Homo sapiens: one gene and its partners. The protein of the gene in region 5 purifies or fractionates together with the protein of the main gene of each other region. This does not show direct contact. Each region holds a gene or a part of one and is shown on either strand. Other genes may lie near its edges.

Region 1 (3,500 bases), on a different chromosome or scaffold from region 5:
AAAAATATATATATATATAGACAGAGAGAAAGAGAGAAAGAAAGAGAAAGGAGGGGAGATTAGGGAGAGAAAATTTAGTGAGCCACTTAGAAAAATATATCATTGATGAAAAGAGTCAAACTCTGTAAAATATTTTAAGAGATTTATTCTGAGCCAAATATGAGTGGCCATGACCCATGACACAGCCCTTAGGAGGTCCTGAGAACATGTACCCAAGGTGGCTGGGGTGCAGCTCGGTTTTATTCATTTTAGGGAGGCATGAGACATCAATCAAATACATTTAAGAAATACATTGGTTTAATCCAGAAAGGCAGGAAAATTCAAAGCGGGGAGAGATGGCTTCCAGGCTACAGGTAAATTTAAACATTTTCTGGTTGACAATTGGTTGAGTTTGTCTAAAGACCTGGGATCATAGAAAGGAAATGCTCAGGTTAAGATAAAAGACTGTGGAGACCAAGGTTCTTCTGAAGTCTCATAGTGGCTGCCCTTAGAGACAATCAATGACAAGTGTTTCCTACTGAGACCTTTAAAAGCTGCTAGACTCTCGGTTAATCTCTTCAGAATTGGGAGGGCCTGGAAGAAAAAGAGCTAGCTATGTTAACAGAGATTCCTTACAGATGCAAATTTTCCCCAGTAAAGGACAGCTTTGCAGGGCCATTTCAAAATGTGGCAAAGAAACATGTTTTGGGGTAAAATATTTTTATTTTCTTCTTGGTCGTGTAGTGTCATGCCAGAGTCAGATGGAAAGTAAGTCACAGCATATAGGGTTAGATAAAACCATCTGATGAGAATTTATGGTTTGTAGGGCATGACTCCCCAGACCCCTTAGATAAGAATATAGGCAAGATAAAAAAATCAGAGCTTAGTCCTCAACATACAAAAAGTTATTGATTTTCTTCTATCAGTTAGAAGAAACATTTTCTAACAACCAGTTAGAAAATGTTGCAGAAAAATGCTATTTACACTAGTAAGAAAAACAACATAAACCCAAGGAATCAACTGAATAAAAATGTGCAGGACTTATGAAAAAAACTCAAAAAAATTTTTGAGAAATATATTGGAAAGACAAACCTTGTTTTTGGATAAGAAATCATCCCACTATCTTAAACTGATTTAAAAATATCAGTTATTCCTAACTGAATCTATAATAGAATGCAATTTTAATTAAAGTTTCCAAGAAAATTTTTTGCATTTTTGTAGATAGGAGTTTGCAAAATGAATCCAAGTTTTACTTGGTAGAAAAAGCAAGAAGAGTTGAGCAAAATAAAAAATAGAGTGATGAGAAAGCTTGTGCTATCAAATGAAACGATAAAATTACAGTTTTGGTTTTGGTGCTGGAACAGGCCAACACTCCACACAACCATGGGCATAACAACACACGAGAACTTAGGCTATGACATGGTGGCCTTTCAGAGTGGTGGAAGCAGGCTGGGATGAGGGCTCACCCTGTGACTAGAAATAAAGGTACTACCTCACATGGTGCTCCCAAATAAACTCCAGGAAAAGGAAGTATCTGAGTGCAAAACAGGAACCAAAAAGTCTTTGAAGAAAACAGAATGTATAAAATGTCAATGAAAAATCTATAATAATTGTGTACCAGATACTGTCCTATATCCCTTCATTCAACATTCACAATTGGACTTATGGCCTTGGACATAGGTACTATTACCATCCCCACTCCAACAGATGAGGAAACCAAGGCCCAGTGAGGTAACTTGCCCAGGGCACTCAGCTAATAGCTGAGGTCTGAAGCCTGGCAGTGTGGGCTCAAGTCTGCCCTCTTGACACTGAGCTCCCACATATGACCATCATTACAACAAAAGCAATATGAGCAGACTGGAAGCAGACTGAGAGCCAGCAACAATCTTCCCAGTGTAAGATATAAATATTTTGATGGACTGTTATTAGGTGCATAAATATTTATAATTATTATATCTTGCTGTATTGAGCCTTTTATTAATATATGATGTCCTTCTTTCCCTCTTGTAACCTTTTTTGATTTAAAGCCTATCTTGTCTGGTATTAGTATAGCCACTCTTGCTCTCTTTTGGTTACTATTTGTGTGGCATGTCATTGCCCATCCTTTCACTGTCAATCTATTTATGTTTCTGGATCTAAAGTGCATCTCTTGTAGAGAGCATATAGTTGGATTTGGCTTTCTAAATCCATTCTGCCAATCTCTGTCTTTTAACAGAGAGAGTTTGGAGAGTTTAATCCATTTACATCTAAAGTAATTACTGATAAAGAGGGACTTCTTTCATTTTGCATTTTTTTTCTGTATACCTTATGGATTTTTTTGTCCTTAATTTCCAGTATCACTGTCTTGTGTTTAATTAATTTTTTTGATGGTGAAACATTTAAATCCCTTCCTCATTCCCTTTTGTATTTATTCTTTAGTTATTTTCTTTGTTGTTACCATGGGGATTGCATTTTAACATCCTAAAATTATAACAGTCTACACTGAATTTATACCAGTTTAGCTTCAATGGCATAAACAAAACTCTGCTCCCTGAATGGCTCTGTCCCCAACCCTTTTAGTTATTGATGTCACAAAATTACACCTTTATATATTATGTGTCCAAAAGCATAATGTTATTTTTAAATCAGTCTCTTAAATTATGTAGAAAACAAAAAGCAGCATTACACACCATTGTTACAGCAATATTAGCTTTTATAATTGTCTATATATTTACCTTTACTGAGATATTTATTTATTTATTTATTTTGAGATAAGGTCTTGCTCTGTTGCCCAGGCTGGAGTGCAGTGGTGTGGTGACAGCTCACTGCAGCTTCAACCTCCCAGGCCCAAATGATTCTCCCACCTCAGCCTCCCCAGTAGTTGGGACCACAGGTGTGCACCACCATGCTTGGTCGATTTTTAAAAATATTTTTATTTTATAGAGATAGGGTCTCCCTATATTGCTCAGGCTGGTCTTGAACTCCTGGGCTCAAGTTATCCTCCTGCCTCGGCCTCCCAAAGTGATGGGGTTACAAGCATGAGCCACTATGCCTGGCTGAGATCTTTACTTCTTCACTTGAATTACTGTCTATCACCCTTTATTTCAACCCGCAGGACTCCCTTTGGCGTTTCCTATAGGGCAGGTCTAGTGGTAAGGAACATTCTCAGCTTTTGTTGATCTAAGAATGTGTTAATTTCTCCCTTACTTTTAAAGGACAGTTTTGCTGGATGTGGGCTTCTTGGTAGACAGTTTTTATTCTTTTAGCACTTTGGATATATTGGCCCACTGCCTTGTGGCCTTCAAAGTTTCTGATCAGAAATCTGCTAATAGTTTTATTGAGGATTCCTTACATGTGATGAATCATTCTTTCTTGCTGTTTTCAAAATCTTTGTCTTTGGGTTTTGACAATTTGATTAGAATGTTTCAGTGTGGGTCTCTTTGAGTTCATCCTGCTTGGAGCTTTTTGGGCTTCTTGGATGGTTATATTCATGTCATTCATCATATTTTAGAAGTTTTCAGCCATTATTTCTTCAAATAGTC
Region 2 (4,264 bases), on a different chromosome or scaffold from region 5:
AAGAGAAACCGGGCAGACAGGTGGTCCCGGATGCTCCCTCGTCGGGAAGCGCAGTTGGGTTCCAGGGAGCCCGTGGGTGCTGGAGGCCCCAGCTCAGGGCTCAGTGAGCCGGGCCAGCCTGGCCTCTGAGAGGGCTCCCGGAGGAGGCGACCAGGACCCTGGCCTAGAGTCTCAGCAAGTCCATCTCCTTCAAATGCCCCCACCTCGGCTCCACGCCCCTCCTCCAGAGCACACTCGCGTGAGGCGCCAGCTGGAAGATCCTCGCGGGTCCCAGCACCGCAGTGGGTGCCTGGGCCTGACAGAACCTCCCTGAACCCCATCTTTCTTCTCCATCGACACCGGGGCAGAGACGGTGTGGGGGCTGCAGGGCGGGGACTGGTCGGCCTGGGCTCGACAGCTTGGCGAGGGCCTGGTGCGGGCTGGGCAGGCTGGACTGAGGGGCAAAGAGGTCTGGGCGGGGCGGGGCCGCTCTGGGCGCCCGGCCCCCACCAGTTCCTTCCCCCGGCCCCCGCCTCCGCCCTCCCACGCACCTGCGCTGGCCTCCCCCCAAGCCCTGGGGGCAGCGGGCGGGTGGCGCTGGGAGATCAGAGGACTCGGAGGAGTCGGGCCCAGGGGGAGGGGGCGGGGAATTTCCCCCCACGCCTGCCTGGGCCTGCTCCCCTCCCCCTCCCCCGCCAGGTGGGGGGCACGGCTGGGGGAATTCCACTGCAGTGTGAAGGCTCGGGAGAGTCTGGGCTGGGGGTCCCAGGGAAGGGCGGGGCAGGGGGAGGAGGAGGGGACAGACTGGGACCTGGGGCGCAGCTGCCTTTCTCCCCAGACACCAGCTGCCCCTGCCTGTCCCGGACTGAGCGTCCACGACTCCCGCCTGTCTCGTGGGCGCGGGGGCAGGGAGTGGAGCTTCCTCCGTCAGGCCAGCGGCATCTGGACCAGGGGCGGGAGGGGCGTGCGGATCCGAAGAAAGTGTGCGCGTGAGCGCCTGGCAATGAATGGGAGAGAGTGCGAGCGCGTGCGTGCACTGGGAGGAGGGCGCTTGTAACTCGGACATTCCGGGTGTCCTGGGGCGCGTGCGACCACGTGAGGGGGTTCTGTATCTCCCATTTTAAGGGCCTTCCGTCCGCTTGCCCCGCCTGTCCCCCTCCACACCTTCCCACTTGAACCGGCACCGACCTGAGGGAGAGGGGGCCGGGAAGCGCTGGACGCCCGGGGTCGGGGGAACGGGCGTGGGAGGCGTCTGGACCTGCTGCCTCCGCTCCAGTGCTGGGCGGGGCTTCCCGGCCTCCCATGGGGGGAGGGAGAGACCCAGGGGGAGGGACCCACGGAGGGATGCGAGGCGGGCAGGAGTCAGCCCGTTGGAGACCTGGGCGAGGGAGACGCCGAGAGCTAGGCTCAGTGGGAGGGGGCGGGCGTAGAGGCTGAGGCACCGCCCAGAGCTCGCTGAGACAGAGACTGAGAACGCCCCCGGCCAGATTCCCCCCGGAGAGACCCGGGTAGGGACAGGGACAGAGAGACGCCTCTAGGGGCAGAGGCCCTGGGAGGCAAAGACCCCCAGGAGAGATTTACCCACCCCAGACGGAAAGCGCGGCTCAGAGTCGGACGAGGGGAGACTGTCAGAGGACAACGCCCCCTAGGTCTCCTGGGAGACCCCGAAGCGACCCCGGGGGCAGCCCGGGCCGTGTCCGGGCGAGGGTGACCTATCCTTGGTTGAGAGCGATGGGGACACAAGCCCTGCAGGGCTTCCTCTTTCTCCTCTTCCTCCCGCTGCTGCAGCCGCGTGGGGCCTCGGCTGGGAGCCTGCACAGTCCAGGTAAGTCCCCGCACGGCTGTCGGGCCGTGTTCACCACCCCTTCCTCGGCCTCCGCCCCCAGGGCCAGGCCCCCAAGGCTAGGGAGGGGGACAGAGCAGGTGGCCGGAGCAGCTGAGCAGCCCGAGGGCTCCTGCAGGGGCGGGTGCGGGGTCGCTGGCTGGGGACCCAGGCGGGAGGTGGCGTAGGGGCGCGAGGATGCCCGGCGTGGGTCCGGACCTCCCCAGGCCCTGCCTTTGCCGTGCAGGCCTGTCCGAATGCTTCCAGGTGAATGGGGCTGACTACCGCGGCCACCAGAACCGCACTGGCCCGCGCGGGGCGGGCCGCCCGTGCCTCTTCTGGGACCAGACGCAGCAACACAGCTACAGCAGCGCCAGCGACCCCCACGGCCGCTGGGGGCTGGGCGCGCACAACTTCTGCCGGTGAGGGGCGGGGCCTGCGCTGGGGGCGAGGCTGGGCTCACCATTGCAGGGATGGCCCGAAGCGGGGCCTCCGTGCGGGCGGGGTGGAGGTCTGCCGTGGACTGGCAGCCCAGCCTCCTGGAGAACCTGGGGGCGGGGCCAGAATGAGGGGCGGGGCGGGGCGGGGCGGGGCGCGCGGAACCCTGGCGCAAAAGGGATCCTCCTCAGGTGAACAATTTCTGCAGAGCTCCAGTTCAGGGCCAGGAGAGAAACGGACCTGGGCACTCAAAGGACCCGTATGGGCGGGGCCTGGTCAGAGCGGGGGCCGAATGGGCGGGGCCTTGTCAGAGTGGGGCTCTTGTCATACAACTTATTTTGGGGTTCAGAGCCACAGCTACGGTCTGAGGCAGGATGGACCCAGCGGGAGGAGAGCCGCAAAGCTCAGGAGCTCACTTCTGCTTTTAAGTGGGGTTGGAGGCCAGGCGCGGTGGCTCAGCCTGTAATCCCAGCACTTTGGGAGGCCAAGGCAGGCGGATCATCTGAGGTCAGGAGTTCGAGACCAGCCTGGCTACCATGGTGAAACCCCATTTCTACTAAAAATACAAAAAATTAGCGGGGCATGGTGGCGGGCGCCTGTAATCCCAGCTACTCAGGAGGCTGAGGCAGGAGAATCGCTTGAACCCGGGAGGCGGAGCTTGCAGTGAGCAGAGATCGCGCCAATGCACTCTAGCCTGGGTGACAGAGCGAGACTCGTCTCAAAAAAAAAAAAAAAAAGTGGGGTTTGAGGGACGGAAGTGGCTGAGGCCCATGCCGGGTGGGGGTGAAGAATACAGATGGCCTCAAAGTCCTCATATATGGAGTCAAGTCTAGCAACAGCTGAAGCCTAAAAACAGCTCTCAAGTCCCCTTTAATGACTTCCCGCTGTCCACTCGGAAGTCGACGTCCAGTTCCTTCATCAGGCAGAGTTCTGCGTAGACAAAACTGGAATTTGTGGGTGTACAGCAGGCAGCACAGCCGCTCACAGGCACAGAGCCTTGAAGGCCACTTTGAGCATAGGCTGCGGGGCCGGGCCTGGGTTTGCTATTCTTGGGGTGGTGGGAGCCCCACCACCTCCCTCCCACCCGCAGTAACCCAGACGGTGACGTGCAGCCGTGGTGCTACGTGGCTGAGACAGAGGAGGGCATCTACTGGCGCTACTGCGACATCCCCTCCTGTCACAGTGAGTAGCGCGGCTGGACAGAGGTGGGAACGCTGCTGCATCTGGGAGGAGGGTTGTTTTCGGAGTCACGGAAGTCTGACTCTGCCCCCTCAGTGCCAGGCTACCTGGGATGCTTTGTGGACTCAGGGGCACCCCCAGCCCTCAGCGGCCCCAGCGGCACCTCCACGAAGCTCACGGTCCAGGTGTGCCTACGCTTCTGCCGCATGAAGGGGTACCAGGTACTGCTCACGGGCCCAGACCAGTGACCCCTGACCTGGACCTAAAGACCACACTCAACTCCCAACACTCGGTTGCCAAACCCAGACACCGGTTTCTGAACCTCCAGCCCGATTCCCACCCCGACCCCAGGCCCCCACCACTTCACCCCTACCCCAGCCCCTGCCCTGGGGTCACCCAGTCTGTGCTCCCAGCTGGCGGGCGTGGAGGCCGGTTACGCCTGCTTCTGTGGCTCTGAAAGCGACCTGGCCCGGGGACGCCTGGCCCCCGCCACCGACTGTGACCAGATCTGTTTCGGCCACCCTGGACAGCTGTGTGGCGGCGATGGGCGGCTGGGCGTCTATGAAGGTGAGGAGTGGGCGGGGACCAGGGGCCTGGGCGGGCCTCGAGGTGGGGCCTGGCCGGGCAGGGGAGCCGCCGTGTCCTGGTCCTCAGGATGCTGACTGCCGGCCCCGCCCGCAGTGTCGGTGGGCTCCTGCCAGGGGAACTGGACAGCGCCTCAGGGCGTCATCTACTCCCCGGACTTCCCGGACGAGTACGGGCCGGACCGGAACTGCAGCTGGGCCCTGGGCCCGCCAGGCGCCGCGCTGGAGCTCACCTTCCGCCTCTTCGAGCTGGCCGACCCGC
Region 3 (4,036 bases), on a different chromosome or scaffold from region 5:
CAGCCCTGGGTGTCCAAGACTTCCCCTCCATGGGCCTCAGAATCGTCCATATGATGTAACACTCTTTTTTTTGAGACTGAGTCTCGCTCTGTTGCCCTGGCTGGAGTGCAGTGGCTCCATCTCGGCTCACTGCAACTTCTGCCTCCTGGGTTCAACCGATTCTTGTGCCCCAGCCTTCTGAGTAACTGGGATTACAGGCGCACACCACCACGCTTGGCTAATTTTTAGTACAGACGGGGTTTCACCATGTTGGCCAGGCTGGTCTCGAACTCCTGACCTCAAGTGATCCGCCCGCCTCGGCCTCCCAAAGCACTGGGATTACAGGCGTGAGCCACTGCCTCCGGCCAAAGTAACACTTTTGCACAGGGAGTTGGACTTGAGTGACAAATGGGTGACAAAGTGCTTTGTTAACTCGCAGATGTGAAGGGGACACTGCGGCTGACCGCCTGGTGACAGCTAGCCAGTGGTTGAGAGACCGCAAGATGGTTCCTCGTCTTTCACTTCCCTCCGTCCCAGGTCTGAACTCGGACCAGCTGGAGCCTTTGGGGGACCACGGATTCCCCTTTACACTCACACAGATTTCTCTTGTCCGTCACTCACTCACAGTCCAGTAAGGATCCTGCTGTCTATTCCGCGAAGACATCTTGAATGCAGGGACAGCCATTTGGAAGACTGTCCTCGAGGGTGGCAGCAGCCTCTCAGGACGGGGAAAGCCAAGGTGCCCACTAAGCCCGTCTGGGGTGGAGGGTGGCAGGCCGGGGTGGAGAGGATTGGAGGCCGCCTGAAGGAACCTGTGCTCGGTGGCATTTACTCAATGTGGGGGTCTGACACCTCCCAGCTCATTTTGTCCCCATCTTCCCCTTGCGTCAGGTCCCCACCCAGCAGGAGGAGGTCCGAGGATCTGCGCGACGCTGGCCCCGCGGAGTGTGGGGGACTTTTCCTCTCAACCACCAGTGCCCCGCAAGCGTGGGTGAACAGTCCTCCCTGGCTACTGTGGGACGCTGGGCAGGCGACTTCGCCTCTCTAGGCCTCGGTTTTCCTGCTTGTCAAATGGGGCTGATGCCGGCGTGGGCTTCTTCAGGCGGTCGCGAGCGTTGACCCCTGGAGTCAGCGAACCAGCCGCGCACGCACTCCCGGGCGGAGGTCGGGGCTGGGGGGCGACGCCTCCCGTCTGCGCGCCCCCGGCCCCGCCTCCCGCCGGCGCACCCCTCCCTCGGCTCCGCCCGCGGCCCGCTTCTTCCTCCCGCGGGCGGCCCAGCCCTAGCGCCCCGCGCTCCGCGGGCAGCCCCCTGCCGCCGCGCCATGTCCGCCGGCTGGTTCCGGCGCCGCTTCCTGCCTGGGGAGCCGCTCCCCGCGCCGCGGCCGCCTGGGCCGCATGCCAGCCCCGTGCCCTACCGACGGCCCCGCTTCCTTCGCGGCTCCAGCTCCAGCCCCGGGGCGGCCGACGCCTCGCGCCGCCCAGACTCCCGGCCCGTGCGCAGCCCCGCACGAGGACGCACGCTACCCTGGAATGCAGGCTACGCCGAGTGAGTGCCCCTCCCCGACCCCCAGCTCAGGCCCGGGCCTGAACCCGCTTCGGGTCCTGCGCCCGCCTAGAAAGCGGGAGGAGCTGAGTGACAGTCCCCACCCACCTGTGGACAGCCCCTTCTTGCCCTCACCTCCGAATCCTGACAACTTCCCGGTCATCCCGACCCAGCGTTTTCCTTGGGATTCCGACCTCCCCCTCAGAGAAGACAGGAGGTCGGGAAGGACCTGCAGCCCAGGGGCTTCCAAGATGAGGCCCAGAGACTCGGTAGAGTTCCAGCATTCGGGGCTTTGGAGATTTCCCCTCGCCCTCTACCCCCACCATCTCACCCTGGGTATGACCTGCGCTGTATGGGACAGGGCTTTGGGCTGCGACAGGACAGGGGCAGGAATGGCAACCTACCCTTACCGTCTAGCCCTGGGTCACCAGGTAGGCTCCAGAGGAGCTGGGCCCTGACTTTTACCTTAGCCATGAGGCCAGTGAAGTTAGGAAGCTTACATCGTGGTTGTCTAAGTGTGTGTTAGGGACAGCACTGGGGAGCTGTTGCCCCAGAGGGAGGGGTCTTCTCCCTGTGCTGGCTTGGGTCCCTGTGCCCATGGGGACATAGGTGTGTCCCTGGAGGGTCGCTTACCATTTCCCGGCCTCAGGATTATCAATGCAGAGAAATCTGAATTCAATGAGGATCAAGCCGCCTGTGGGAAGCTGTGCATCCGGAGATGTGAGTTTGGGGCTGAAGAAGAGTGGCTGACCCTGTGCCCAGAGGAGGTGAGTGCAGTCTGAGTTCTTGGCTGGAATCCCTCCGACAGGCTGGGGCCACGACCTGCAGGCTGAGGTTCTTACCCTGCTGCCCCAGGTCCTAGTTAGGTTGCGTCAGGGGACAAGTGGGGAAGTCAGGCAGAGGCTGACACTGAGCCCTTCCTGTGCAGTTCCTGACAGGCCATTACTGGGCACTGTTCGATGGGCACGGCGGTCCTGCAGCAGCCATCTTGGCTGCCAACACCCTGCACTCCTGCTTGCGCCGGCAGCTGGAGGCCGTGGTGGAAGGCTTGGTGGCCACTCAGCCCCCCATGCACCTCAATGGCCGCTGCATCTGCCCCAGTGACCCTCAGTTTGTGGAGGAAAAGGGCATCAGGGCAGAAGACTTGGTGATCGGGGCATTGGAGAGTGCCTTTCAGGAATGTGTGAGTGTGTGGCTTTTGGCTGGGGAAGAAGTGGAGATTTTGCCCCGGGGATCTCAGGAAATGGCATCTCTGTATACCCATGGTCATCACACCAGATCCTTGGATTGGGAGGATGAGATTGGGTTGGTTGGATTGTTACTAACAGCCATCACTATCAGCATAACCCCTCTCATTTATCCAGCACCTACTGTGTGCTAACTGCTTTTACCTGCATCATCTAATTGAATACCCTATTGGTCCTTGGTGCAGGGGCTGGTTTCTCTTCCTATTTTGAGTAGCACTTCCCTTGTCTAGATCTCCTGACTGCAGGGATCTTGGAGGTATGGCTGGACTTTGGGCTGGGACTGTCAGGCCTGCTGGTAGAAGTGAACTGTAGGGTAGGGTGGGGATTGAGAGACAAAGTAGTATGGTGGCAGAACAGGCAGCAGCTAAGGTGGCCTCGGTTTTCCCCAGGATGAGGTGATCGGGCGGGAGCTGGAGGCCTCAGGCCAGATGGGCGGCTGCACAGCCCTGGTGGCTGTGTCCCTGCAGGGAAAGCTGTACATGGCCAATGCTGGGGATAGCAGGTGAGTCACCCCTTGGAGGGTGGGCAAGGGTGGGATGGGGAGGGCATAAGCAGCAATGGGGACAAGCAAAGGTGGCTGGAAGTGGAGGGATAGTAGGAAGGATTGACTGGCTGAATTGTGTGTGTACTTGTTATGTGTCGAGTGTGGACAGTGGCTGCCGGGGAGGGCAGGGACCTCAAAGGCCCCGCTAAAGGGCTAAGCCTTCACCCTTGCAGGTCTTAGGTAGTCATGGAGGGCTTTAAGGGATCATCATGGACAGAGCTGGATCCTGGTGGTTGGAGGAGGGACTGGTAGGAGGGTGGCCATGGGTGAGGGTGGAGGCCTCCTCCTAGACCTCTCCCTTCTCTCCTCAATCCAGGGCCATCTTGGTGCGGAGAGATGAGATACGGCCACTGAGCTTCGAGTTCACCCCAGAGACTGAGCGGCAGCGGATCCAGCAGCTGGTAGGTGCCCTTGGCAGCATGGAGGCTGTGAAGCTCCAACTCCTGGGTCCAGGGCCATAAGAAGGAGTATGACCTGAGCGCAGCCTCCCCACCCCAGGCCTTTGTCTATCCTGAGCTTCTGGCTGGTGAGTTCACCCGACTGGAGTTCCCTCGGCGGCTGAAGGGGGATGACTTGGGACAGAAGGTTTTGTTCAGGGATCACCACATGAGTGGCTGGTGAGTGGGGATGGGGGACAGGTAGGAAGGGAGACCCCTGGGATCCAGGCCCAGCCGTATGGCCTGGGGCCCCCCTCCACCTTGGCAGGGTGGCACTGTGAGGGT
Region 4 (3,500 bases), on a different chromosome or scaffold from region 5:
GAACAATGGGGGACTCGGGGGCCGGGGAGGGTTCTCCAGGCTCGGCGAGCAGCGGTGGACATGGAGGTGGCAGTGGCTGCTCGCACATGTGGGAGAGGATGTGGTGGCAGAGGTAATCAGGTTCAGATGCCCTCGTGTATCAGTCTGGGGAGCAGGGTGTCCTCCGGTGGCTGGTGACGGCCCAGCCCAAGGCTCCCGTCAGAGTCCTGCGCACACCTCATGTGTGGACATATGGGAGGGGCACCTGGAAACTTGCCGCCACCCTGTCGAGGTGAGGACTGGATCTGCTGGGGTGGCAGGGGGTGAGGAGTAGTGTCTTGGAGGGAGGCTTGAGAGGAGGGCTCTGCACGAGGAACTGCTCCCAGTCACTCTGGTAGCCAGGGCAGCTCTGCTCACAGGGCCTTTCTCTAGGATGAGGGTCCTTCAGGAAGAGCGGGATGTTTGAGGTAAGGGGGTGTCCAGGAGGAAGTGGGAGGCCCTGGAGGAAAATCTGCAGGAGTCATCCCCAGTGCAGTATCGGGAAGCCTCCAGGCTCCTCTCACACCTTTGGAATATGTCCAGGATCTCATCACCTGGCACCAGTCTTGCAGCCCCCACCGGGATCTAACACCCAATCATCCGTCACCCGATTGTGCTCGTGGCCTCTGTCTGGTCTCCTGGCCCCAGCCCCACCGCTCCTCACACAGCTGCTGGGGGTCCTTTTCACCTCTGCTCCCTTGTTCACAGCTCTCGTTTCTCATAGAAATCACAGTTCCATCAAGGCCAGCAGCCCCTTCCTTCACTACCCTCATCACCTACCACTCCCCAGCCTCTTCTCCAGCCCCACAGGCTGCCTTGTTCATGGCTGCCACTGTGACCTCTTCCAGGGATGCTCCAAAGACGAACACCTGCCCGCTCTGCAAGGCTGCACCTCGGGTAGGCATGCAGTGCCCGCATGACCAGCCCCCATTCAGCACCTGGATGCAGAGCCACCAGCAGCTCCCCTGGGCAGGGGCGCTACACAGGTGCCCATGCAGCTTGCTGCCAGGAGGGAGCACTGTGTGGCTCTCTGGGCCCTGGCCTAGAGTGCCACACGAACCCTGTTTTGCTGGTTGCCTGACTCACTCTGACTTGCTGTGCCCCGGTCCAGGCAGCTTTCGTGGGCAAATGCTGGGTCCCAGGACTCTGCCCGGAGAGGTCATTTGTGTCCTTGGTCTCAGTCTGCTGTCATGTACTGTAGTTGTGGGCAGGAGCTCTTAGCTGGCAACTAGCTTCAGCGCTGAAGATTTTTTGTTTGTTAAAGATTGGAAGGAACCTGTTTGGTTTTCTTGCCACGGGACAAGAAGGCAAATAGTGAAGAAAACAGTGTTTAAAAGGGGAGGGGCTCTACTTAGGTGAGAAGGCATCTGTGGGAGATGAGGAGGGTGTGCAGGGGCTCGGGGGCCTGGAGGAAAGGTGGGGTGGTGCACAGCGTGATGGTGGTGGCACCCACTGTCAGCAGTGGAGACCAGCCCTCCAGGTGGTATGGGGAGGTGACTCCAGACAGTGGGCCCCTTTCCTGCTCTGCTGTGGGTCTGATAGATGCAGATGAGGCAGGCGAGATGCTGGGCCTGTATGTCCCTGGGAAGGGGGCACAGCTGTTGCTGTGGCTGCCTGCTGGCCTGGCACAGGTCTTGCAGGTCTCAGAGCTTCCTGAGAGCTGTCCTCCTGCCCATGGCAGGGCACCATGTGTCCACAGGCCCACAGCATAGGCCTGCCTCCAGACTCACTGGCTTTTTTGAGGCAGAGCCCCATGTTTCGTGCTGGGTATAAACAGAGCTCCAAAAGACGCAGGTGAGAATGCTGGAGGCTTATAAATGGGGTGAGCTGCACTGCTGCTGTCTTAGGAGGGGGAGAGCACCAGGTGTGCCTTCATTATTCTGCTTCTTGGAAAGGTTGCTTTGTGTTTCCATTGATCCTGGTCGGGTAAGCCTCAAGGAATCTTGGCAGCCCAGACTGGAAGGGCCGTGCAGGGGAGAGAGTGGGGCCTAGGGCTGGCTGTGCCATGCCCTGGGCATGGCCAGAGCCCACCTGGAACCTTGCAAAAGAGAGGCTTGGAGGTTAGCAGTCCCCAACCCTCACGCTCTCTGCGGCAGGGGTACACGGTTTCTGACTGCCTTGTGCCTGGCTTAGGCAGGAGCTGAGTGGGTGACAGTTTCCCTTGAGCTGAGAGAGGTCCCCGGGAGCCAGTGCTTCCTAAGTGTTCCCTGCAGCCAGCTGCTGGCAGTGCCGGCCAGTGCCAATGCTGCCTGACGGCGCCTTTCTCCTGGGTGTTGGGTGGACTTTGTAAGTCTTCTGTTTATCTGAGTGTGCTGTCCTAAGGGAGAGCTTCCCTGCCTGTTTCCCTTGCCCATTCCCCTGTTTGCATTTTAATCCAGTGTGCCACAATCCATTACTTTGTTATTATGCTGTTGCTCTAACTTTAAATGCCACCCACTAACCGTGATCCAGCACCCTCTTCTGGTGCTCAGGCTGGCACTTACTGCTACCCAGGGTTTGTGGCCTGTGTGCTTGCAGGCTCCAAGGAGTGGCTCCCGCTAGGCCCAGCACCTGGGGTGACTCCCAGGAGGTTGGGGAGTCCCGAGTGAACACCTGGCCACAGTGACCACCAGTACTTGGCGGTCCAGGCCCTGTGGTTGATGATCCTGTCTGACGCCATGGTCCCCTTGAGGACTGCACAGCTTGTCCTCTGATGTGATGTTGTCCAGCCCCACCTTTTGTCTCCCCAACAGGCTCTTCAGAGGTGTTCCTGCCCCCAGACCCCATCTTTGCCTCGGCCATGTCTGAGAACGACAACGTGTTCTGTGCCCAGCTTCAGTGCTTCCATTTCCCCACCCTGCGGCACCACGACCTCCACAGCTGGCACGCCGAGAGCTGCTACGAGAAGTCTTCATTTCTGTGTAAAAGAAGTAAGCCCCCTTGAGCTGGCGTTCTTGGGGAATGTCTGGGCCCTTGTGTCACTTTGTTGGACCCTGAGTTCAAGGTTTCGGAGGCAGAACCTGATTTGCAGTGTTGCGGTGGACGCCCCTTACCAGCTCACACCTTGTTCTTGGGGCCCATTTGCAGCTCTGTGACCAGGGCAGCTGGTCAGCATCTTAGAGCCCACGGAAGCATCTTAGAGCCCAGCTTCTTTTCCCACGGAAGAGACAATCATCCCTGTCCTCCCTGTTGCAGTGTTGTTAAGAGAGTAAATGGGAATGAGGACCCAAGGACTTGGCATCTCTGGAGCATCTAAGGCTGTTTGTCACCTCCCCACCCCCCATTTCTGCCATCCTTCTCTCTGCTTCTCTGCTTCTCTGTTTACCTTGCCAGTCTATGGTGTGTGTGTTTTTTTTTTTTTATTAAAGCCAGCTAACTCTATTGCTTTTGGGGGACAGGGGTCTCAGGAGCTCTTGGTGGGGCAGGTCCCCTTCCTCTTCACCATCACAGGCTTCTGGCTTCGCAGGATGGCGCTGGCTCTGGGATGGCAGCTGTGCGCAGGT
Region 5 (4,051 bases):
GGTTCAAGCAATTCTTCTGTCTCAGCCTCCCGAGTAGCTGGGACTACAGGCGTCCACCACCACACCCGGCTAGTTGTTTTGTATTTTTAGTAGAGATGGGGTTTCACCATATTGGCCAGGCTGGTCTCAAACTCCTGACCTCAGGTGATCCACCCGCCTCAGCCTCCCAAAGTACTGGGATTACAGGTGAGAGCTACCGCGCCTGGCCACAAAGCCGATTTTCTATAGCAGATACCTAAAGGCCAGTGCCCACTGCTAGCAGCCTGCCTAGTTCAGTGATGGAGTTAGACGCATACCCTTTCTAGTCTTCTGGGAGGAGCACCCCCATGTCCACAGCTGCTGTCACACCTCAAAGTGACCAGGGACTTCGGATGCCATTGGACCCTAGACAAGCCAGGGCCACTCTGAGCCCTCCCTATCTATCACAGGAAGGGTTAGACTGAGGTTCCTAACCCTGTGTAAGGGTAAAAAGCTGTGAGGCCCCTAGAGTGGGGTGGAAGGGGGCAGGACTTCAGGGACAGCAGGAATTGGATTCCCAGGGTTAATTGTGACCCATTGCAGGAAGGTGAAGCAGATGCACCTTAACTTCATGGATGAAAAGGATCGGATCATCACAGCCTTCTACAACGAAGCCCGGGCACGGGCCAGGTCTGTCCCTGCTCTATTCTGCTCCCTGCTCCCTGTCCAGGAACCACACTTCGGGATCCCTATCCCAACCACCCAGGTGCCCTCTCCTCCAGGGCCAACAGAGGCATCCTTCAGCAGGAGCGACAACGGCTAGGGCAGCGGCAGCCGCCACCATCCGAGCCAACCCAAGGCCCCGAGATCGTGCCCCGGGGCGCCGGCCCCTGAGGGGCTCACCTGGATGGGGCCTGCAGTGCGTTCCCGCTTTGCTTCCTTCCCTGGACGGCCCGCTCCCCGAAACGCGCGCAATAAAGTGATTCGCAGAGCTCGTGTCCGGCTCCCTCCTTAAGGCCCGACGCCCCCGGCCCCGGCCTCGCCAAGGGGCAGCGCCCCGCCCTCCGGGTAGTGGCGGCGGCGACTGGGGAGCCCAGCCTCCTGGGCGGTGCGTCCCCTTTCCCCTGCCGCGGCGGGAGGCGGGAGGGGGTGTGTGGAGGAGGCGGGCCCCGCCGACGGCCTCGCCCCCCCACCCCGCCGCCCCGCCCCCGCCCCACGGGCCGGTGGGGAGCGCGTGTCTGGGTCACATGAGCCGCCTGCCCGCCAGCCCGGGCCCAGCCCCCCGCCGCCCCCGCCGTCCCCGCCGCCGCTGCCCGCCGCCACCGGCCGCCCGCCCGCCCGGCTCCTCCGGCCGCCTCCGCTGCGCTGCGCTGCGCTGCCTGCACCCAGGGCTCGGGAGGGGGCCGCGGAGGAGTCGCCCCCCGCGCCCGGCCCCCGCCCGCCGCGCCCGGGCCCGCGCCATGGGGCTCTGGCTGTCGCCGCCCCCCGCGCCGCCGGGCTAGGGCGATGCGGGCGCCCCCGGCGGGCGGCCCCGGCGGGCACCATGAGCCCTCTGCTCCGCCGCCTGCTGCTCGCCGCACTCCTGCAGCTGGCCCCCGCCCAGGTACGTGCGGCCCGACAGCGCGCCCGCCCGCCCGCCGTGCCCTCTCTCAAGGTTGGCGGAAGTGAGGAGGCGACCCGCGGCCTCGGCCGAGGGGATCTGCGGGGTCCGGCCTTGGACGCGGGCGTCTCGGGGGCCCGGCGCGTGCATCCCCTGGGAGGTGCCCCTCCCCGCTGGCCCGCCAGCCCCAGTCTGGGGCCACTCCTCCGCCCCACCCCGTCCCCTGGGCACCGCCGGGGGCGGGGCTCCCTCGGTGCCTGCAGGACCTGCTTCGGTGGGCACTGTGCGCGCTCCTGATCTGCATGCAGCCCCCAAACATGCTCGGCTCCGCGGCCTGGAGATTTGGCGCGGCCACCAGAGCACCTGTTGCGTTTTGGGCCAGGGCAGGTCCCGGGTGGCCAGGAGAGGACAGGTAAAGCTAGAGCAGTGGCCGCAGGAACAGAGCAATCTGGAAAGATGTCAGAGAGGTGGTGAAGCCTACTGATGCAAGGGCAAAGCCCCAGGGACGGTGACAGGGCCACACCCTCCTAAAGTGTACCTTGGGTACAGGTCTTTTCTCTCCCACAGGCCCCTGTCTCCCAGCCTGATGCCCCTGGCCACCAGAGGAAAGGTAATACTTACAAAAACTCGGCACTAGCCAGCACTAAGAGGGTTTGTCATGGGCCCTGATTCCAGGTGTCCATCATCTTGTGTAACTCCCCTAGAAGATTCAAACTATTATTCTACCCATTTCACAGAGGAGGAAATTGAGGCAGTGGGGTTACTGGGATCTGGATAAACAGGGCAGGGGAAGACAGGTTGTGAGGGCAGAGTGGGGAGGGCTAGTGGAGGGTGGCTGTGACTTGGGGACTGGGGAGGACAGATGCTGGGAGCAGCTGCAGGAAAACCAGTGAGGACTTAACCCCTACCGGTCTGCTCCCAGTGGTGTCATGGATAGATGTGTATACTCGCGCTACCTGCCAGCCCCGGGAGGTGGTGGTGCCCTTGACTGTGGAGCTCATGGGCACCGTGGCCAAACAGCTGGTGCCCAGCTGCGTGACTGTGCAGCGCTGTGGTGGCTGCTGCCCTGACGATGGCCTGGAGTGTGTGCCCACTGGGCAGCACCAAGTCCGGATGCAGGTACTGGGCAGGTGGGGCAACGGGCAGGGGATGCAGGTACTGGGCAGGTGGGGCAGCGGGCAGGGTGGATGCTGGCTGGCTCTGGGGCTGGGGCAGCCTGGAGACTGATGCACAGGAGACAGGGTTGGGGGGAGGGCTGGTGGCCAGCCTCCCGGCTGTTGGGTGAGCTTTTCTCCCTTCAGTCTTAGAGCATCCCCTTTCTCTCTCTCCCTCACTGTCCCCCCTGTTCTTCTCCTGAGCACAGATCCTCATGATCCGGTACCCGAGCAGTCAGCTGGGGGAGATGTCCCTGGAAGAACACAGCCAGTGTGAATGCAGGTGCCAGCCAGGCCCAACTTCTGAGCTCGCAGAGGCCAGGCTTGGGGGGTGCTGGGTATGGTGGTCCACAGAACTGGGGACCAGGTTCCTAAGAGTAGAACCAAGGGGCCGGGCGTGGTAGCTCACGCCTGTAATCCCAGCACTTTGGGAGGCCGAGGCGGGCGGATCATGAGGTCAGGAGATCGAGACCATCCTGGCTAACATGGTAAAAACCTGTCTCTACTAAAAAAATACAAAAAATTAGCCGGGCGTGGTGGCGGGCACCTGTAGTCCCAGCTACTCCGGAGGCTGAGGCAGGAGAATGGCATGAACCTGGGAGGCGTAGCTTGCAGTGAGCCAAGATCGTGCCACTGCATTCCAGCCTGGGCGACAGAGCAAGACTCTGCCACAAAAAAAAAAAAAAAAAAAAAAAAAAAAGAGTAGAGCCAAGGGTAGGCCTTGGATCTGGGGCAACAAAGTAGGATGCTTGGGCCGGGGGTAGTGGCTCACACCTATAATCCCAGCACTTTGGGAGGCCCAGGCAGGCAGATCACCTGAGGTAAGGCGTTTGAGACCAGCCTGGCCAACATGGTGAAACCCCATCTCTACTAAAAAAAAATACAAAAATTAGCCGCGCATGGTGGCAGGTGCCTGTAATCCCAGCTACTTGGGAGGCTGAGACAAGAGAATAGCTTGAACCTGGGAGGCGGAGGTTGCAGTGAGCCGAGACCACGCCACTGCACTCCAGCCTGGGCAAGAAGAGGGAAACACAGTCTCAAAGAGAGAGAGAGAGAGAGAGAGAGAGAGAGAGAGAGAGTAGGATGCTGGGATTTCCTGATCTTCCTCTTGTTTGTCTGTGTCTGTCTATCTTACTTTTCAGACCTAAAAAAAAGGACAGTGCTGTGAAGCCAGACAGGTGAGTCTTTTGGACTCCAGCTGAGTAGGGGTATGGGGAGTACAAGTGAGTCCAGAAGCTGTTGCTCCTCTTTCTCCTCCCACCCGTCCCCCACTTTCCCTTTTCCTCTGCTCCCCAAGCCTGTGTTCTCTGCCCCGACCCCAGCTCTAGGGAAGACTCTT
Region 6 (3,500 bases), on a different chromosome or scaffold from region 5:
TTAAGACATTTGGCTGGCCAGGGTGGGGGTGGTGGCTCATGCACATAACCCCAACACTTTGAGAGGCTGAAGTGGGAGGATTGCTTGAGCCCAGGAGTTCAAGACCAGCCTGGGCAACATGGCAAAACCCTGTCTCTACAAAAAAAATACAAAAACTAGCCAGGCATGGTGGTGTGTGGTGTGTGCCTATAGTCCCAGCTACTTGAGAGGCAGAGTGGGGAGGATAGCTTGAGTTGGGGAAGTAGAGGCTGCAGTGAGCTGAGATGGTGCCACCACATTTCCAGTCTGGGTGACAGAAAAAGACTCTGTCTCAAAAAAAAAAAAAAATTAAAGACATTTGACTGGCAAAATAAGTCATGTAACTTATTTTTTTAATGTGATAGTGCATCTTCTTAATTGACTTCCATTTTTCCCTTGAAATTTGATCTCAGGCACAATAGTAATTTGCTTATTTGTAACATTATTGCTCCTGGACTTCTTCTCCTGGATAACCAAGATAATGAGATCTGACATCATTTTTTAATGAGAGAAAGTAAAAAAGTATATAATTGAATAGTGGGCATTTGTTCCAGTGATACTGGTTTTGAACACTTGTATAAAAATGTATTTTAATTTTCAGAGGTGTTTTCTCTTGTTTTAGTTTAATCTTTCCCTCAATTATAAATAACTCGAGGTCTGATTTCTGTAGAAAGTTAACATACAAGCGATGTTCTCTTAAGAGCAGATGAAAATGTGTCTATGAGTGAGGACCAACAGGCAGAAATCAGCAGTGGTGGCTTTGCTCTCCATAGTAGCCTGTTCAGAAGAGACCTTTCCAAAGCCAGCAGGCAAATAGCATTCTGCCTATTTCTAGTGGCAAGCTTTGTGTGACTGCTGTGCACATGATCATTGTGCCTTTAAAAAATATACACTTGAAATGTTAATATGCTTCAAATATATATAATAGACATTCCCTTAATAAATAGATGAAGCGTATATTGTATATATTAATGACATTTATGGTTTAGCTTTTCAATTCATTATCAAACACTAGTGACCATGCCCTTTCTGTTTAAGACTTACTCCTTTTCTTCCATCATTTTATAATTCAAGAAATTATATTTCATAAACTCTCATGAAGGGGGTTAGAATGTGGACTTTGGAGCCAGACTGTCTGGGTTAAATAGCCCCAACTTTGCCCTGGCTATGTGACCTCTCTCTACCTCAGGTTTTTCCATTTGTAAAATGCGGATAATAATAGTAACCTGCTTCAACTGTTGTGAGGACTCCGTGATTTAATTTACAGAGAACCCTCCTGGTAGTGCCTGACAGAGAGTAAGTTGTAGTTATAGCAAATGGAAAATAACCATTTAAAAAGGATAAAAGGGTAGCAGGTTTTTCAGCTTTCAGAAGGTAGTGAGATGTCAGTGTGACCCCAGGAGAAATTGCCCTAGGCTGGGAGTTGGAGGAAGGGATGGAGTCCTCTGGCTTTCCAGTTTTGTGACCTTGGGTGAATATTCCTACTGGAACCCTATCTGGTCCCAGTTTCCTCATCCAGTAAAATGGAAAGGATTAGACTGGATGACCTCTAAGAGCAACCCATTTTTTAACATTCTACTCAGTCTTGATGAATTGAATGTGAATGTGATGTATTTGTCAATTTGCTTTACTTGTCTTGGTCAACACTACTGGAAAGGTACTGTCTAAAAGGTTAGCATTGTGCCTGCAATAGGCATTTGAATAGATGATGAGCTGTCACTCTTATTCCTTATCTCTCCTTGACTACCAGACAGTCATCAGGTTTAAATGACTTGGAGTTATCTTCCTGGACTTAGTCCAAAGAGATTTCAGACATGCAAGTCCAGATTCCTTGTGTGGGCCATATGGCTGCCCTAGTCCTCTTCTTCTGAAGAACCCCTCATGTAGAAGAGGGGTGGTATAGCTCTGGAAAGAGGAAAGACAAGTGGGCTGACTGTTTAATTTTATGATAAAAATAATTTCTATCAGGCAAAGAAGTCTCATGAAGGACTTTTAAGTATGGTGAAAAGCAAGAGGTTTCATTGGGCTGGATGGTTCAGACAAAGTCCCTCGGGGGCTTATATTTTTGTCTTTTCCCACTAAGACCCTGATTTACTGTCTGTACATTGTCACTGGTTCTTTTTCAACAGTGCTTCTCCTTTTCTTGCTTCACCAGCCTCCTGGTTTGCTGTATGATCAGGTGTTAGAGTTCTGAAAGGTAGAGGATATTCAGTGATTAATGAGACTACTGACTATGGGTTCTTTACTTTGAGCCTCTAACCCAGGATTTCAAGCCCTGTTGTTCACTGGAACCACCTGGGTTCAGAATCTCTCAAGTGGACCTGGCATCATTTTCTAAAGAGGTGATTCTAATGTACAGCTGGGTTTGATAGCTACTTTCCTAATCTTTAGGTGTTTCTGGCTTCCTACATTGCACAGTGCCTAGGGAAAGGGTAACACCTGCTATTTCTCATGGTGTTACTGTTATGCTGTTGGTGTGTCAACTGCCTCCTGCTGTTTCTCCCTTGTGAACTCTCCAGTTCTGTTAGCCAGGACTAGTACTGCCTATGGAACATGTTGTGTGTTTCTGACTTCTTTGACTTTTTCCTAGTGGGCCCCTTTTCCTCCCTTGCCAACAAGTATTGCAGTCCTCAAAGCCCAGCTTAAACCACTTTCTGCCTGTAACCTTCAACTAACTTAGTAGCAACTGTGCTGCTTTCCCTTTTGAACTCCTACCACCCTCTCATTTTTTACTTACCACCTGTCCCTGGGTTCATTTTGTGTTCCTGTATATAAGTCTCAACTTTACATCGTGACTGTAGCCCATTAATGACAGGGACCCTGATTTAGGCTACTTTGTAGGGTGCTCAAAGTAGAATATACACGTGTTGGTCAGTTATTTAGTTATTTTGCTAACTGTCGTCTCAAGTCCTTCTTGTTTGCAGCACCACTGCAAGTACTAGTGGTGGTGTTTTCCTGGGTATCCGATGTGGATTGCGTTGGAAAACACTGGGGTACAGGGGGAGGAGGGCAAAGTTTGCTCAGGAATTAGACAGTTAGTCCTTCCCAGATGTAAATGGGAGACCTCATGGACCTCTCTGAGGAAACTGTATCAACCTGCATGGGGAAATGAATGAAATTCTTGATTAAAATCTGAGTCTTTGGATTGAAAGAAACCTAAAAGTTTTTCTCTAGTCTCCAGAAGGTGCACAATTCCCCTGCATGGCCTATCTCCAAATGGTTGACCAGTCTGTCCTTGAATACCTTCAGTGATGAGGACCTCATGACCATAAAGATAATCCATCTATTTGGAAAGCTTAGACTTTTAAAAACAATTCTCCCTTATCCTAAGTTTGTCACAGTTCTGCTATGTGGAGGCCATTCTGAACAATTTCTCTTATATGGTAGCCTCTAACATTTAAAAAAATTAATTATATATCCTACCTTCAAGTCTTCTTTTATTGAGGTTAGAAAATAAAAATCTGTTTCTTCAGCCCTTGTTA
Region 7 (3,500 bases), on a different chromosome or scaffold from region 5:
AATGAAAATGAAATACAAATTCAAAATAAGTTAAAAAAAGACTTTCCTAAACAATTTGATCAGGTTTCTGTCTTTAAATCAATACGGAAAGATTTTAGTCTAGTAAGAGAAAACAGCAAAGAGACATTTTCTGGAAAGGAGAAAAATAGAGACCTAACTTATGAACGTGAAAAACGGTTGGATAAACCCCATAAAGATTTGGATTCAAGGTTGAAAAGCAGTTTTTTTGATAAAGCAGGTAATAATTGTTGGACTTAGAACCATAAAACACAATTAAAAATTACCGATCATAATATATAGCTTTTATTACTTTTGATGTTAAGTGAAGTATGAACGGTTAAATTCATTGTAAGCTTGTCATTTTTCTTTTGTCCTTGTTCTTTGCAGAGTGACTGAATTTCTCCCAGTAACTTTTGGTAATGGTATAAATGGTTGAAAATAGCTCTAAACCTCATTTCTCCCTCCCCTGGTTGCAATGTTTTGATGAGAAAGGCAAGATACTTGAATCACCTGTTCATTTTCTTTGGTTGAACATTGGAACCTGAAGTTGGATTTAACTTCTTTGTGCTGTAAGCACTAATTCAAACTGCTGTCTCACCACTTAGTCCAAATTAGGGAGTTATTTTATTTTTTTAATTTTAATTTAATTTTTTGTTTATTAACTCTCACCTCTATCTGAAAGGGAGTTTTTTTTTAATAAAAAAAACCCAAACATTTCTAATTTATGTTTTAGAAGTTTCTTGAGGTTCCTCCTGAGCCTCTTTGCCCAGTGTACCCTATACTTTAGCTTTAGTTAACATTCTTGAATATATCACATATTTCCTTCTATGCCTTCCTTTCCTCCTGCTATTCCATTTGCCTGCATGTCATTTTCTCTCTGTATATTTGCTTGTGAAAGTACTTCTTATCCAACAATGCCTAACTCATAAACCTCTTCTACTCTGTCATCATTCTAACTGCTCTACATCAAGAATGGTTTCCTTATCTATATTTCCACAGCATTTTCATGCCTCATTATTTATAGTACTTATCACACAGTATTATAGTTCTATATTTGTTTTACCTTACCTACTAGTGTAGGAGTTGAGGGCCAGATTGTATCTTACTCATCTTTGTATTCTTGGGGCCTAACCTGGTGTAGTAAAATAGTAATTCTTCAATAAATGTTCAATAGCTGTGAAGGAAAGCAAGTATTCTATACCAGTCCTTGTATTTCTTCTAACAATGCTAGGAAATGTATGGTAGAAAGAACAAACCAGTATTGTTAAAAAGACAGCTTTTGAGTATGTACAAGTCTGTGCAAGGATATACTATATTTTTCTCTATAATTCAGTATATATTTCCAATATCCCTTCTTGGGGTATGAGAGTCATGTTTCTCAAGGAACATAATGTCTAGTAGTAGAATGGACAAGACAAGTCAGGCCGTAGAAGTGCCAATGTCCAGCTGAATAGCGTAAGATTTAATTTACAGTTAAAGACAGTGGTAGAAGAGTTTGTCATAAGGCAGTTCAAAAAGATGTCTTTCAAATAACTGAAACTGTGTTTTAGGGATTCTTAGAAGAGAGATGATTTTTAACTTAGTGAACAGGGAAGGTTTTATAGAGGAGAGGTGAATTTTTAACTGAGCTGAGTCTGGAAAACTGTATAAAGATTAGGATAGACAGAGGGGACTTGGAATAGAATAAGTAGAAATGGGGGAGAACAAATGCAAGCAATTTTCAGAGCAAAAATAATTTTTTTTTTTTTTTTTTTAGGTTTGAGCAAGGAAAAAATGTAGGGTAAGGCTAAAAGCTAGGTGGGGCCAGATTGTGCAGAACTTTGAGTGAAAATACCTTTTGGGTGTTTTTGGGACCCAGTTCACTCTAACGAGCATCTTTGTTGGAAAAGAGAGGTGATTATCAAATGATAGCTTTTTAGGTCACTCTTTGTAAGATTTGTTATTCATATACATGTGTTTGTTTGTTTTTTTTTTCCTTTCAATAGCTAATCAAGTTGAAGAAACATTACATACCCATTTACCACAAACCCCAGAAACAAACTTTAGGGTAAGTTTTCAGTGTGTATGTAGATTGCTGTAACTGTGACAAGTGTCAAAGTTTTCTTTATGTCAGTTTCTAAATTCTAACAATGTATTAGGTAGAGCACTGATTTTTTTTTTTTAATTTGCTTAATATTTGTTTAAGGTCATCATCGGAGACATTCTAAAAAGCCTCAAATCTTAGGGTCTTTATTTGTATTTGGTATTTGGACATATAACACAATTACTTTTAGGCGTAGGCATAAGATCCAAAAGCTAATGAATGTCCATAGAGTTCTTCATTTCCAATGAGCTTTTCTTTGGGTGTTAAACCTGAAGAGGAATCATTTTAAAATCTGAATATTTATTAATCCTTTATATTGTGTTTTAGGATTCCAGCTACCCATTTGCCAATAAAGAATCCATTGGTTCGGAACTGGGGAATTCCTTTGCATCAAATATTAGAATTAAAGAAGAACCTTTGGATGATGAGTATGACAAAGCAATGGCACCACAGCAGGGACTACTAGACAAAATAAAAGATGAACCTGACAATGCTCAAGTAAACATTTCACCTTTTTTCCCCCCTTCTTTTTGTTCCACACATTGAATTATTCATTTGAGAGAGGAAGTGCTTAAGAAGTGAAATAGTTTGTTGACAGGGTGAAAGGAAACTCTTAAAGAAGGTTGAGGCGATTTGAATTACCATATAAGGCATTAACGAGCTATATGAAACTTTTCCTGAGTAGTAATTAAGGCTTTTAATCATCTTTGTTTCTTAATACCACTGTGATTTTTGCAATGCATTTTAGCGCAAGGCTTTGAGAACTATACAGCAGATATGGTTGAAGATTTATGGTAGTTTATAAGTTTGTGGTGCAATCAAGTTTATGTAGGATAGTAAGCCTTTTGCAGTTAATGCTAATGAAGTACAGGCTATATATGGATTTAAATATTTTTCAGGAGGGGTTAATGGACAGATCATCTTTGGAAGGGTTAATTGATTGAAGAACCAGTTCATTGGATTAGTGGATAGAAGGTAAAGGAGGCTTTGATGAATGATACATGATTCCAAGTTTGAGATCTGTGAGTAATAAGAGTGAAGGTAGAGCTCTGCTATTTCAAGGTTGCTCTGGAGATAAAATCATAGAGATCTTAAAACTGTGAGGTCCTGAAGTCAGCTAAGCTATCCATGCAGTTAATGATGTTGCTGTTGTTGGAATAGAAGAAAAAAGTTATATCAGATGCTGCAATCATTTTGAAGTGCAAGAAGGGGTCCAAGGGACGAATATGCAATAGCAGCAATTATTTGAGGGTATCTGTGTTTTGTAAAGATGGTATGAATTGGCTCTTTTTCTGAAATGACATTTAATCTGGGGGAAGCTTATATTTTCCTATCTTTCTGTTTATATTAGAAGGTTTGAGACTGTCAGACTTCTGTGGAAGTGCTTTCTTTTTCTTTTCTTTCTTTTTGTTTTTTC

Evidence for each region.
Region 1: the proteins of VEGFB (region 5) and COL6A2 purify together in Homo sapiens (affinity purification with mass spectrometry; 2 studies listed by BioGRID and IntAct, with this or other methods). This does not show direct contact.
Region 2: the proteins of VEGFB (region 5) and KREMEN2 purify together in Homo sapiens (affinity purification with mass spectrometry; one large-scale study listed by BioGRID and IntAct). This does not show direct contact.
Region 3: the proteins of VEGFB (region 5) and PPM1M purify together in Homo sapiens (co-immunoprecipitation; 2 studies listed by BioGRID and IntAct, with this or other methods). This does not show direct contact.
Region 4: the proteins of VEGFB (region 5) and DGCR2 purify together in Homo sapiens (affinity purification with mass spectrometry; one large-scale study listed by BioGRID and IntAct). This does not show direct contact.
Region 6: the proteins of VEGFB (region 5) and ARHGEF28 purify together in Homo sapiens (co-immunoprecipitation; one large-scale study listed by IntAct). This does not show direct contact.
Region 7: the proteins of VEGFB (region 5) and ZMYM4 purify together in Homo sapiens (co-immunoprecipitation; one large-scale study listed by IntAct). This does not show direct contact.

What each region holds. Positions count from the first base shown.
Region 1 is NC_000021.9:46,104,612-46,108,111, reverse strand, and holds part of COL6A2 (collagen alpha-2(VI) chain isoform 2C2 precursor), read right to left. Parts: intron 1-3,500. UniProt on the Homo sapiens protein: Collagen VI acts as a cell-binding protein.
Region 2 is NC_000016.10:2,962,811-2,967,074, forward strand, and holds the start of KREMEN2 (kremen protein 2 isoform d precursor), read left to right. Parts: upstream 1-1,464; 5' UTR 1,465-1,710; coding exon 1,711-1,804; intron 1,805-2,048; coding exon 2,049-2,223; intron 2,224-3,329; coding exon 3,330-3,421; intron 3,422-3,514; coding exon 3,515-3,639; intron 3,640-3,831; coding exon 3,832-3,985; intron 3,986-4,099; coding exon 4,100-4,264. UniProt on the Homo sapiens protein: Receptor for Dickkopf proteins. Cooperates with DKK1/2 to inhibit Wnt/beta-catenin signaling by promoting the endocytosis of Wnt receptors LRP5 and LRP6.
Region 3 is NC_000003.12:52,244,523-52,248,558, forward strand, and holds the start of PPM1M (protein phosphatase 1M), read left to right. Parts: upstream 1-1,236; 5' UTR 1,237-1,302; coding exon 1,303-1,526; intron 1,527-1,644; exon of another isoform or gene 1,645-1,792; intron 1,793-2,172; coding exon 2,173-2,290; intron 2,291-2,451; coding exon 2,452-2,706; intron 2,707-3,159; coding exon 3,160-3,272; intron 3,273-3,630; coding exon 3,631-3,715; intron 3,716-3,798; exon of another isoform or gene 3,799-3,812; coding exon 3,813-3,931; intron 3,932-4,036.
Region 4 is NC_000022.11:19,056,413-19,059,912, reverse strand, and holds part of DGCR2 (integral membrane protein DGCR2/IDD isoform 1 precursor), read left to right. Parts: intron 1-2,750; coding exon 2,751-2,927; intron 2,928-3,500. UniProt on the Homo sapiens protein: Putative adhesion receptor, that could be involved in cell-cell or cell-matrix interactions required for normal cell differentiation and migration.
Region 5 is NC_000011.10:64,233,333-64,237,383, forward strand, and holds the start of VEGFB (vascular endothelial growth factor B isoform VEGFB-186 precursor), read left to right. Parts: upstream 1-1,251; 5' UTR 1,252-1,501; coding exon 1,502-1,561; intron 1,562-2,125; coding exon 2,126-2,168; intron 2,169-2,480; coding exon 2,481-2,677; intron 2,678-2,921; coding exon 2,922-2,995; intron 2,996-3,854; coding exon 3,855-3,890; intron 3,891-4,051. Other genes in the region: DNAJC4 (dnaJ homolog subfamily C member 4), read left to right, coding at 562-781. UniProt on the Homo sapiens protein: Growth factor for endothelial cells. VEGF-B167 binds heparin and neuropilin-1 whereas the binding to neuropilin-1 of VEGF-B186 is regulated by proteolysis.
Region 6 is NC_000005.10:73,629,196-73,632,695, forward strand, and holds part of ARHGEF28 (rho guanine nucleotide exchange factor 28), read left to right. Parts: intron 1-3,500. UniProt on the Homo sapiens protein: Functions as a RHOA-specific guanine nucleotide exchange factor regulating signaling pathways downstream of integrins and growth factor receptors. Functions in axonal branching, synapse formation and dendritic morphogenesis.
Region 7 is NC_000001.11:35,359,209-35,362,708, forward strand, and holds part of ZMYM4 (zinc finger MYM-type protein 4), read left to right. Parts: coding exon 1-238; intron 239-393; exon of another isoform or gene 394-569; intron 570-1,985; coding exon 1,986-2,047; intron 2,048-2,410; coding exon 2,411-2,581; intron 2,582-2,982; exon of another isoform or gene 2,983-3,058; intron 3,059-3,500. UniProt on the Homo sapiens protein: Plays a role in the regulation of cell morphology and cytoskeletal organization.